Regions from separate parts of the Homo sapiens genome. Here region 2 is linked to region 1. Evidence: fine-mapped expression QTL. A gene starts in region 1. The other region holds a variant in brackets. All regions are shown on one strand. Distances are between the middles of the regions.

Region 1 (3,026 bases):
GCGGCCAGCTTCTTTGCGTGCTATGCAAACAGCACACCCAGTCCGACCAATCTCTCGGTTCCTGTGTAAATCAGACAGCTCCTCCTCAAGCTCGGCTATAAAACCCCATGTATTTCACCACGAGACCAGAAGACTCACTTGGGAGCCCCTCTCTCTCTGCAGGATAGAGCTTTTCTCTTTTTTCTCTTCTCTTGCCTGTTAAACTTCTGCTCTGAAACTCACTTTTTTTTTTTTTTTTTTAGATGAAGTCTCACTCTGTCACCCAGGCTGGAAGGAACTGGCGCAATCTTCGCTCACGGCAACCTCTGCCTCCCGGGTTCAAACAATTCTCCCGCTTCAGCCTTCCGAGTAGCTGGGATTACAGGCATGCGCCACCATGCCCAGCTAATTTTTGTATTTTTAGTACAGACAGGGTTTCACCATGTTGGCTTGGCTGGTCTTGAACTCCTGACCTCAGGTGATCCGCCCGTCTCAGCCTCCCAAAGTGCTGGGATTACAAGGGTGAGCCACAGTGCTCGGCCTTAAATTCACTTCTTGTGCATCCGCATCCTTGATTTACTTGGCATGAGAGGATGAACCCCAGACAACAACACTGCTTCAGTAGGAAGTCTGGTGTTTTAAGTCTAATGAAGAGCTTCAGAAGAGTTTTAAGCAGGGGAGCCGGGTGCAGTGGCTCACACCGGTAATCTCAACACTGGGAGACTGAGGCAGAAGGATTGCTTGAGCCCAGAAATTCAAGACAAGCCTGGGCTACAAAGCGAGGCCCTGTCTCTCTTCAAAAAAAAAAATAAAAACTAAAAAAAATTAGCCAGGCGTGGTGGCATGCACCTGTAGTCCTAACGATTCAGAGGACTGAGGTGGGAGGATCGCTGGAGCCCAGGAGTTTGAGGTTGCAGTGAGCTATGATTGTGCCACGGCACTCCAGCCTGGGTAACAGAGCAAGACCCACATAAATAAATAAATAAATATTTGCTGGAGGAAGGGTAGATTTACAGACTTTTTCTCCCAAGTCCTGTGACTGGTTAGGGTTGGTCCAAATAACCAAATAATGTATTACCTTCTATGAGACTTTGGGACTCTTAACTTCTTATGGCTCAGCAATCATAACCAGTAAGTATCATCTACTGGGGGAAGAGAAAGATATGTTAAAATGACTCCTCTGGAAACTTCAGATACCAACACAGACACCCTAAAATCTGGTTTACTCACCTCAAAGCCACAGGCTTATTTAAGATTTATTTTGGCCCCAAAGGCACTTCCTAATCCTCAGACAATGTGATGTAACTTTCAGGGCATTTCCTCGTTAGGGTTTACCAACTCAATCATCCCAAAGGTGATCAACAATAGCTAGGCAGAAAAGGTACAGCAAATAAACGAAAAGCAGAACCATGAGTCTGATGGCGAAAGAGGGGAAGCAGTTTGCTTTTCTGATAGCAATTTCATGAGTCAGCTGACCTAAGATACATACTTCAATTCTCATGGGATTTCTTGAGCTAGGAAAGGTGGTTGGCTTACGGCACAGTAGAGAGCTTCCAGGGCTGGCTGGCGTGGGATACCCGTACCACAGAAATGCAGGGACCATTGCTTCTTCCAGGTATGTGTGACTGTAACAATGACTGAGGCTTAACCTATCCCCCAGTCAGGGACCACTTGGTTCAACAATTGGTTATTTTCTCCTCCTCTTTCTTCTGCTCTGAACACTCTCACCTTTTCCCTTTGGAGTGTGGTTTCCTTCCTGACTACCCTATTCAAAGTATGCTCTCGAATATCCCTAAAATGTTCCTATCCAATCTAGTAGCTTGGTTTTTTGTTTGTTTTGTTTGTTTGTTTTGTTTTGTTTTTTGAGACAGAATCTCACTCTGTCACCCAGGTTGGAGTGCAGTGGCGCAATCTTGACTCACTGAAACCTCTGCCTCCCGGGTTCAAGTGATTCTCCTGCCTCAGCCTCCTGAGTAGCTGGGATTACAGGCACACATCACCACACCTGGCTAATTTTTGTATTTTTAGTAGAGATGGGGTTTCACCATGTTGCCCTGGCTGGTCTCGAACTCCTGACCTCAGGTGATCCACCCGCCTCAGCCTGCCAAAGTGCTAGGATTACAGGCATGAGCCACCGCACCCGGTCTCTAATACGTTGTTCATCTTCCTCTTGGCAAGTTTTGTTTTCTAATTGATGTCTTCTCCTTCTTGATAACTTCTGCAAACTAGCCCTGCCCTGACTTTTTTCCTTTTTCTCTTGCTATTCTTTCTTCTCCCTCCTTTATCATTTTCCTGTGACAAGAAAATAAATGATAATTTTATTATTAATTTTAGAGGTCATTATATTAAGTGAAATAACTCAAACACCAAAAGACAAATGCCTCATGTTCTTGTTTATCAGTGGGAGCTAAATAATGTGGACACATGGACATAGAGAGTAGAATGATAGACGATGAAGACTGGGAAGGCTGAGGGAGTAGAAGGACAGTGGAAAATAAGAAGTTACCTAATGGTTACAATGTACATCATTTGGATGGTGGATACTCTAAAAGCCCTGACTTCACCACTATGAAATCTATGCGTGTAACAAAATTACACTTGTATCCCATAAATTTATACAAAGAAAATAATGATAACCAACATTTTTGAAAACTCACTATGCACCTTACATGTATTAATCTGTTGCATCATCAGTATGCTCATGGGGTATCCTCATCTTACAGATAAGAAAACTGGGGCACAGGTTATGTTATTTGTCCAACATCACACAGCTAGTAAATAAGAGAGCTGGGATTTGAATCCAAACCATCTGTCTCCAGATCTTTGCTATAATGCTCCTCCCACAGGATCCTTACTGGGATCTTCTGTTTTTCTACTCCCTCTCCCTATGGGAATCTCCTAATTCCATGGCTTCAACCACCATCTCTGTACGGATGAAATCCCATCCATCTTTCCAGCTCCAGATGAATTAACAATATTGATAGTCCCAATATCAATCAAAGCTTACATTTATTAAGCAGCTACTTTAGCCTGGCATTAGGCTTAAA
Region 2 (2,500 bases), 27 kb after region 1:
AGATGGAAAAAGAGAGATGGGCAGAGGGAGATCAAAAGCGAGAGATGGGAAGAGACAGATCAAAAGCGAGATGGAGAGATGGAAAGAAAGAGATGGGGAGAGAAAGATGGAAAGAGATAGATGGAAAGAGAGAGATGGGGAGAGAGAGATGAAAAGAGAGAGAGGGAGAGAGGTGGAAAGAGAGAGATGGGGAGAGAGATGGAAAGAGAGAGATGTGGAGAGAGAGACGGAATTCGAGAGATGGGGAGAGATGGGGAGAAAGATGGAAAGAGAGATAGGGAGAGAGAGATGGAATTAGAGAGATGGGGAGAGATATATGGAAAGAGAGAGATGTGGAAAGAGATCAAAAGAGAGATCGAAAGAGAGAGATGGGGAGAGAGAAATGGGGGAGAGAGATGGAAAGAGAGAGATGGGGAGAGAGAAGGAAAGAAAGAGATGAGGAGGGACGAGGAGAGTCATTTTAAAGAATTGGCTCACGTGACTATGGAAGGCCGACATGTCCAAAATCTGCAGGGTGGGCAGGCAGGCAGGAGACACAAGGTAGAACTGATAGTGCAGCTTGAATCCAAAGAGAGTCTGAGGCCAGAACTACCTCTTTCTCAGGAGACCTTAGTCTAGTTTCTCTTGAGGCCTTCAACTGATTGGATAAGGCCCACCCACATTATAGCAGGCAATCTGTTTTACTCAGTCTACTGATTTAAATATTAATCTCATCTTTAAAACACCTTCATGGCAACATCCATGCCTCATGTCTGGGGACCATGGCCTAACCAAGTGGACATGTAAAATGAACTATCACAGTAGGTAAGAGGCAAAGTAAGACAGGCAAGTAAAGGCAGCCAATGAGGTAGGTACCTGAGTGAGCAGCTTGCTGTTGGGGTACCTGGGGCTCAATCTCACTGAGCTGTCCCATTCGAGAAGAGGGAGCTAGGACGTCTGTCCATCTGCTCTGATCTATCATTGGTGGAGGGTTGCTCCGGGGGCTGAACTTTCAAGCTCTTCCAGCCTGTCCTCTGTGCAGGCCAAACACAAATTCACGCCCATGGAAGTTCCCAGGCAGAATCACCGATGCTTACAGCAGAATTAATCAGCATATTAAAGAAACCAAGAATGCCAGGGATTCGAGCCAGG[G/T]TGCCCACCGTACCTACAGCCTTTGTAGGAAGAAATAGATTATTATTCATTGTCTCAGTGTTACCAGACTTTGAAGTTTCCAGAAAATGCAAAAAGTGGGTTGTTTGTAGGAAAACATCTTTTTTTTTTTTTTTTTTGTCTTTGAGATGGAGTCTCACTCTGTCACCCAGACTGGAGTGCAGTGGCGTGATCGCAGCTTACTTCAGCCTCCGCCTCTTGGGTTCAAGCGATTCTCCAGCCTCAGCCTCCCAAGTAGCTGGGATTACAAGCATGTGCCACCACAACCAGCTAATCTTTGTATTTTTAGTAGAGACAGGGTTTCACCATGTTGACCAGGCTGGTCTTGAACTTCTGACCTCAAGTGATCCACCACCCCCTCAGCCTCCCAAAGTGCTGGGGTTACAGGTGTGAGCCACCATGCCCGGTGCCAGCACTCTGTTAAAACGAATCCTCCAGGGATCACAGGATTTAAGCTCCATCTGAGAACAACTCTTCTAAAAAACGGCAGACCGGGCATGGTGGCTCATGCCTGTAATCCCAGCACTTTGGGAGACCAAGACATGTGGATCACCTGAGGTCAGGAGTTTGAGACCAGCCTGGCCAACATAGTGAAACCCTATCTCTACTAAAAAGACAAAAAATTAGCCAGGCATGGTGGTGAGTGCCTGTAATCCCAGCTACTTGGGAGGCTGAGGCAGGAGAATCACTTGAACCCGGGAGGCGGAGGTTGCAGTGAGCCAAGATCACGCCACTGCACTCCAGCCTGGCTGGGCGACAAGAGCGAGACTCCGTCTCAAAAAAAAAAAAAAAAAAAGAAAGAAAAGAAAAGAAAAAAGATTCCATCTTTCTGTTTCCTCAGGTCCCAGTGCCATTGCCTTTATCTCATATTCTTCTCTTGGAAACATCATAAATGCAACTTTTTTTGAAGAGATGGATAAGAAAGATCAAGTGTATCTGAACTCTCAGGTTGTGAGTGCTGCTATTGGACCCAAAAGGAACGTGTCTCTCTCCAAGTCTGTGACGCTGACTTTCCAGCACGTGAAGGTGGGTCACAGGTATGATTTGAGCTTGTGGGTTCTCAAGGAGGCAGGCCAAACGATGTGTGTATCATCCCAGGCTGTGGTTCTAGACCCACTCTGTTCAGGGTCGTAGTCAGGAGCACCTGTCGCTATTGAGCATTTGAAATGTAGCTGGTCTGAATCGAGATTTTGAAGACAGTATTTCCAGATTTACATCTTGTAAATCAGCCTTTGAAGACTTAATAAGAAGAAAACAATTAGCTTGATTTAAACCAGGCAGGTTGGCATGCTCCTATACTTCCAGCTACTCGGGAGGCTGAGGCAAGAGGATTGCTTGAGCCCAGGAGTTG

Evidence for each region. PIP is the estimated chance that this variant, and not a neighbour inherited with it, causes the effect. A credible set is the group of variants that fine-mapping cannot tell apart.
Region 2: its variant is the best candidate, but not a certain one, in a credible set for the expression of ADGRE3 in whole blood (TOPMed, PIP 0.73).

The regions. Positions count from the first base shown.
Region 1 is chr19:14,673,314-14,676,339 of GRCh38, reverse strand. ADGRE3 (adhesion G protein-coupled receptor E3) reads left to right here and starts at 1,496. Exons shown (of 16, transcript NM_032571.5): 1 at 1,496-1,594. The coding sequence starts at 1,570.
Region 2 is chr19:14,646,856-14,649,355 of GRCh38, reverse strand. ADGRE3 (adhesion G protein-coupled receptor E3) reads left to right here. Exons shown (of 16, transcript NM_032571.5): 8 at 1,991-2,175. Among named protein-coding and RNA genes, the nearest start is that of SNORA104, 26 kb to the right of the region's middle. The variant G/T (reference allele first, on the strand shown) is at 1,132.